Regions from separate parts of the Homo sapiens genome. Here region 1 is reported to be linked to region 2. Evidence: microRNA targets listed by miRTarBase, many of them from high-throughput screens and not tested one by one. Region 2 holds a microRNA gene; the other region holds the end of a gene's coding sequence.

Region 1 (3,393 bases), not on the chromosome of region 2:
TGAACGAGTCTGGGCGTGCCCTCCACCAAAGTGAGCATGAGAGGAATGGGGGCCGAAGGAACTTCTGCGGTCACTGCCAGGGTGGGTTTGTGAGCATGGAGCGGCCGCCTAGCCTCACCTTGCCGTGGGTGAGCAGCTCCAATGCAGGTGAACTACAGGGCCGACGGCAAGTGCCACAAGAACCCATGTTCCTTTCTTTACCTGGGACCCACGCCGTGCCTACTGGGCACGGAGCTGCTGCCCAAAACACATTTGTAGAATGAGTGAGTGAGGGGTGGGCAATGACTACCTGAGTGCATGAATCAGTAACGGACAGCGTGTGACACCAAAGCACAGGTCAGGTGTTGGGTCCGGTGCAGGCTGATGTCAAGGTGGTCATGTGAGCTCGCTCAGTTCTGTATTACAAAGTGGGATGAGTAGTGCAGAGCTGGGATTTGAGCCTGGCTCCTCGCCCCTGCATCTTTGCTCATGCCTGGGAGGGCAGCTCCAGTGAGTTAACACATGGCTTGGGGATTCCCCCCTCCACACACAGTCATACAAGGCAGGCAGGCAAGCTCTCCTTTCCACAGGGCAGGAAGCCAAGGGTCAGAGAGGTTAGTCCACTTGCCCAGGGTCACACAGCCTTAAGGGGCAGGGTGGAAACTTGCCCTGAATCTTTCTTGCTATAGGTGTCAGCTCCTGCCACCATATACTGGAGCAGGTAGAAGAGGCTGACCCGAGACTCAGTGTGCCCGACTTATGGGGCACCGAGCTGCCAATTCTACCAGACAGGGCACCTCCCATCCTCCCAGGCCTCCAGAAGTGCCCAAGGCCAGAGCTCCACAGAAGGACCCTAGGAGAAGTGAGCAATGCTTCCTCAGTCTTTGCTAACCCAGCCCACTCTGAACTGCCAAGGTTCACCCCCTCCTTTCGAGTGACCTGAAATTTCAAAAACTGACATGCAATACCAATTATCTAAGCAAGGCTCTGGCCACTTGAGAACACGCTTTTTTGATCCACAATCACTCCCTAGTCCTCTAACAAATCCTCCAGGATCTGTAGACCATCAGTGGCCCTGGTTTCTAAACCCCCTGCCTCCAGATGAGGCCCCAGGACCCTCCTCAAGCACATCAGGGTGTGAAAGGGCAGATTAAGGGCTCTAACTGGAAATCCGAATTTCTCCTTCAAGTCCCCCTCTACTATGAAACCCCCAAGTCAAAGACGCCTGCAGCTTGCCGCCTCCAATCGCTCCTGAGTAATCGCAGCCTTCAGCCAGGTTGAAAATACCCCTTTGGGACCCTCACTGCGGCCTCCCAAGGCCCCAGGAACATGGGTCCTCAGGACCTGGGCTGTGGGTCCAGGAAACCAGTCGCCATGGTCGAGCCCCCTTCTGATCATGAACAACAGCGCTCACCTGGCAGGGCGGCTGCAGCGGCTCTACCGGACCAAGCCCCTCGGGCACGCGCACTGCCTGAAATGCCCTAAGCGCTCGGCTGGACTGTGGCATACCCGCCCTCTCCCCCAGCCCCTGGCTGGCTCGTCTGCCTGGCCCCTGCAGCAGAGACAGCTGAGCGCACCATCCTCCTCCCGTAGGGGGCGGGGGGTCCTGTCCCCGGAGCGGCAGCCGCCGGGACCTCATCTCCCAGCCTCCTTCGCAGGGAGCCGCAACCACGGGACCAGCCCCGTGAACGACCCAGGTAGGGGGACGTGCGCCCTTTGCAGTCAGAGTCTCCCCCAGAAGCTGGAGGCAGGAGGAGGGTGCTTTTGGGGTTAGGGGCGGGGGCCACACGATAGGAGTGGAGGAAGCCAGCCGCCCCTGTGAGAGGGTGGTAGAAGCCGTGGGGGCTCCTTCCCCTGCAGCGGGCAGGCCTGGCCCTGACCAGTCCGCCCTGCCCCATCTACAAGCAGCTCCCAGGCCCTGTGAGTGCCCGCACCATAGTGAGGATATCCGCGGACAGGCCCCCCTGCCTAGAGCCCTCCGCGGGCGACCCAACGGGCCACTCCCGGGGCGCGGCTGACGCTCTGCTGATGCCCCGGCGAGAGCCTCCGTTTACCCCTCTTGCCCTTCTCCCTCCCGGACTCAAGAACCACGCAGAGGGGGACATTTGGATAGTGCCGTTTATTGTTCCAGCACCCCTTCCTCCACCACGCCCAGGCCTGGGACAAACGGGCACCCGCCTCCTGCGGCGCTGCCTCTGCTACCCGGAATCCAGGAGGGGAAGGAACGACTCGAGCTCTAAGGATGGGACCCGGAAGGCAGAAAAAAATAATGGATTGGGGCGGGCGGGGAGTCAAAAGGTGGGCTGATTAAAAGAAAATTCTAAAAGAGAAAAGGGCCCCTGGTTCTCTTCCCTCTCTGGGATCCTCTAAAGGGCCTGGTTTCTCCATTCCTCGCAGCACCCCCCACCCCCGCCCCGGACAACTGAGGAAGAGCAGGGAAAATGGCCTTCCGCTTGGGGCCTGGTCGCCACTCGGCCTCTGCAGTTCTCTCCATTGTCTCTCCGGCTCGCAGGCCGATAACTTAGGAAGGGCGGGCCAGGCTGAGGGGGCAGAGTCTCGAGGCGGAGAAGTGAACGGGCCCTAATACGCCCCAGTGCCCCCCCACGGACGGCGCAGGGACAGAGGAGGGCGGGGAGCCGGGGATGCCGCGGGGTCCATCGCACCCCGTCCGCTTCTCCCTGGGTCTCTTGGTCTTGCACGTCGTCGCTCCCGCCAAGCCCGAGGGGCCCTGCCCGCCCCCCCCCCCGGGCCCCTCCCCTACCGGCCCTCCCCACCGCGGCACTCGGGGCACCGCCCGCCCGCGGCCTCGTCGTCGTCGTCCTCCTCCTCCCCGCCCGCGCGGTAGTAGCTCTGTCCGCAGCTGCTGCAGACCGAGGGCGCGCCCACCGCGTGGATCTTCTTGTGTCTCCGGAGCGCGGCGCCCTGCACGAAGCCCTCCCCGCACTCCACGCAGATGTGGGCCGGCTCCTCGCCCCCCGCCGCCCCGAGCCCGTCCCCGTGCTGGGCCCGCTGGTGCGCCAGGAGCCCGGCCCCGTGCCCGAAGCCCTTCCCGCACTCCAGACACACGTACGGCTTGGGGGCCGGGGCGCGCCGCGACCGGGGCCCCGCGGCCTTTGCCCCCGCGCCCGCCATGGCTGCCGCGGCCGCGGCCCCCTCGCCCGGCGCGCCCACCACGATGATGCCCTCGCCATCGCCCACGGGGATGGCGATCTCGCCGTCCGCCGCCACCGCCTCTTCGGGCCCCTTGGCCCGCCGGACGCTAGCCGCCAGCACCTTGGCCGCCACGCCAGGCCCCGACAGCTCCGGGTGCAGCCGCAGGTGACGCGCGAGGCTCTTGGGCTGGCTGAAGCCGCGGCCGCAGCGCGGGCACACGAAGGGCTTGAGGCCGCTGTGCGAGCGCCGGTGCTTGGCCAG
Region 2 (3,393 bases):
GACAATGGTTGGCCTGTGGCACGTGGTGGAGAGGTACCTGGGCTCTGACGCTAGCTAGGAGAGGCCTGGGCAGTACAAAGGCCCCTGGCGGGCAAGAACAGGTCCTGCCTTACCCCATGCTGTCCCTTCAGAGTCTGGCTTGGATTTGGCCTGCAGCAAGCACATATGCAGCATAGAGAGGGAATGAATGAGTGAATGAACAAGGATGAAAAATCATCCCAGCCGGGTGTGGCGGCTCATGCCTGTAACCCCAGCACTTTGGGAGGCTGAGGTGGGAGGATGGCTTGAGGCGAAAAGTCTGAGACCAGCCTAGGCAACATAGCAAGACCCCATGTCAACAAAAAGGAAAAAAATTAGCCAAGGTTGGTGGTGTGTGCCTATAGTCTCAGCTACTTGGGAGGCTGAGGCAGGAGGACTGCTTGAGCCCAGGAGGTCGAGGTTGCACTGAGCCATGATTGCACCACTGCACTCCAGCCGGAGTCACAAAGCAAAACATTGTCTCAGAAAAAAAAAAAAAAAAATCATTTCAGGGATCCAGTGGTCCCCATCTTGTAATTGAACTTGAAGAAATAATCTAGCATGTAGACAATACTCACATGCAGAAACGTTTACCTCAACCTCACAACAGGGAAAAGTGGAAAAAACGTCAGAAACAGTGCCTGGCTTTTAAGTGCTACATCCACACATTGCAATAAAAATCCTGAGAAGAGTTTTATGGGCACAAGAAAGTGATGAATGGTGCTACACCAAAGTGATAGGCCACAGAAAGGCTTACAACATCTGATTTATCATGTTAAAAGAAACAAAGAATACAGGCAAAACCTAACAAAGCAATTGGCCGAAATGTTAAGCCAACTCTGAGAGTGGGCCCATTTTATTTCTCTGTAACCTCCGAGCCTCCGCTTTCTTATCTACAAAATAAGGGCTGGCCGGGCACGGTGGCTCATGCCTGTAACCCTAGCACTTTGGGAGGCCGAGGTGGGTGGATCATGAGGTCAGGAGTTTGAGACCAGCCTGGCCAACGTGGTGAAACCTCGTCTCTACTAAAAAATACAAAAATTAGCTGGGCGCGGGAGGCTGAGGCAGGAGAATTGCTTGAACCCAGGAGGCAGAGTCTGCAGTGAGCCGAGATCGTGCCACTGCACTCCAGCCTGGGCGACAGAGTGAGACTCCATCTCAAAAAAATAAATAAATAAATAAATAATAAAATAAAGTAAGGGCAGCAGAGTCTACATTTCATGTTGCCAAGAGGGTTAAATAAAATCATGCCCAAATGCAGTGCCTGGCAGAAAATGGATGCCCCGAAGATCATCTATGAATGAATGAATGAGCCAACCAACAAGTGAGGCTGGAGTGAGGGCACCCATCCTGCAATAGGCACGTCACTTCCAAAGGAGCCCTGGGCAACAGAGTTGTTCTCGAAGCAGCTGGGCTGACGGAACACGCAGAGAGAAGCCAAGGAGGGGGTGGGCACATGCAAGGCTCTTAAGGAAATTCCCTAACCCCAGTCAGCATGGGAACTGGCGGGCTGTACTTTCTGTAGGCTGAGTGGGGAGGGAACATTTGCAACCCCTGGAGGCTTATAAATACCCTGGACATTTGCGCGTGTTGTAACAGTGGCAGGCCAAGCCTCCCTGCCCCCAGCTGACAGCGTCGCACCCCCAGGTCTCTGAGCTGTTCGTCCCTTTTCTCTAACAGCTCCAGAAGCCACAGCACGTACAGCGTGGGGGTCGAGGGGTGGTTATTACCTGCTGGGCTATCAGCACGGAGCTCTTGGGCCCTAGGCGCAGCAGCTTCTCTGGAGAGGGAAAAGCCAGGAAGGTGGAGACGTCTGCAGGAGGTGGGGAGGACAGCACGGGAGCTGGCTCCTGGGAAGTAGGGGCACAGAGGCTCTGGAGAATTCCGGACCCCAGACTCCCCGACACAGCTGTGCCCATCCCCACACCCAGCACATCCACCCTTCACTCCAGCCCATCTAGGCTCAAAGTCTAGAATTCTTCCTCCCACTCAGCTGCATTTCCCATCTATCAATATCACCCAGAGATGCTGGCCCTGGATGGCTCTTGGTCCAGGAGCCTTTGGGGTGAGGGGGAAGCTACCTCCCTGGGACTCAAAAAACCTGCTACGGCCAAGTGGATCCTCGTCATGACATGCAGTGCCCCAGAAATGACTACGGAGGCACATGGGGGCTAAAGTGGGTCCCCGTAGAACTACAGTCCAGCCTGGGTAAGCCCTGCTAGCACCAGAGGTGCCCAGAGGAAAAACTGAATTGAGGCGAACCTAGCCATTTGTTTAATTGATTCCATAAACCAGAGAAGCAGCCCAATTCAGCGTAAGCATGGGGAGTCCTTGTCCAGAGCCAAGTTCTCCAGGAGCTTTACTTAGGAACCTGACAGGGAATGCAAATGAATGAACTGGAGGTGTGGCAGCCCTGATGCAGCCCCGGGCCAGACAAGGGACACCAAGTGCCCAAGCCAGGTCATGGCCCAGCCACCATCCCAGGAATGGGGGAGTGGTTCCTAAGGGTCACCAAGACAATCCTCTGGTGGGTGGGGAAAAAAAAAATCAGAATTTCTATTTATGCTTATTTGTTTATTCTTTCAGAAACCCTTATGCATATCTTATAATATACATAATGCAGCAGCACTGCTACCTGTAAATAGACATTTATATTGGGGTAAATAGAAATATAGGTAACTATGGCTGGGCCCGGTGGCTCAATGCCTGTAATCCCAGCACTTTGGGAGGTCGAGGAGGGTGGATCACCTGAGGTCAGAAGTTCAAGACCAGCCTGGCCAATATGGCGAAACCCCGGCTCTACTAAAGATACAAAAATTAGCCAGGCGTGGTGGCAAGCATCTGTAATCCCAGCTGTTTGGGAGGCTGAGGCATAAGAATCACTTGAACCCGGGAGGCAGAGGTTGCAGTGAGCCGAGATCACACCACTGCACTCCAGCCTGGGTGACAAGAGTGAGACTCCATCTCAAAAAAAAAAAAAAGAAATATAGGTAACTATCATTACACTGGGACCATTTTCCTTTTTTTACTCAATATCATGCAATCAAAAAAAAATGTTTGTGGCTACTGTGCTTAAGGAGACACCCCCTACCCCATTGTGAAAGTGCCTCGGGATTTCACGTTCTCAGGACCAGGGCTCTGATTGTGGCAGATGATAGAAACTCACCCCAGTGTTAGGGTCCAGAATCTTCCGTGAGGGCGTGGCTGACTTCTCTCCCTGCCCTCGCTGCTGAGGCTCTTCTTCCTCCTCCTCCTCCTCTTCTTCCTCCTCTTCCTCATCTTCCTCCTCCTCTTCTTCTGCTTCCTCTTCTTCCTCTTCTCCTTCCTCCTCCTCCTCCTCGTCCTCGTCATCACTGCAGAAAGAGCTGGCTGAAG

The links. The annotated mature microRNA hsa-miR-6889-5p reads UCGGGGAGUCUGGGGUCCGGAAU and lies in region 2 at 1,900-1,922, opposite strand. An mRNA with a match to its seed (bases 2 to 7 or 8) in the 3' UTR can be bound and repressed. Matches are read on the target gene's strand: a 7mer-m8 pairs with bases 2 to 8, a 7mer-A1 pairs with bases 2 to 7 and ends in A, and an 8mer does both.
Region 1: the mRNA of ZNF787 is a reported target of hsa-miR-6889-5p. Seed matches in the 3' UTR shown: 7mer-m8 at 2,609-2,615 and 7mer-m8 at 2,264-2,270.

Annotation. Positions count from the first base shown.
Region 1 is chr19:56,085,287-56,088,679 of GRCh38, forward strand. ZNF787 (zinc finger protein 787) reads right to left here. Exons shown (of 3, transcript NM_001002836.4): 3 at 2,080-3,393. The coding sequence ends at 2,737. Among named protein-coding and RNA genes, the nearest start is that of LINC01864, 20 kb to the left of the region's middle. RefSeq lists enhancers at 1-226, 227-726, 1,062-1,661.
Region 2 is chr22:41,251,124-41,254,516 of GRCh38, forward strand. MIR6889 (microRNA 6889) reads right to left here and starts at 1,927; the gene lies at 1,869-1,927. It overlaps RANGAP1 (Ran GTPase activating protein 1), which reads right to left. Exons shown (of 16, transcript NM_002883.4): 11 at 3,185-3,371; 12 at 1,749-1,868.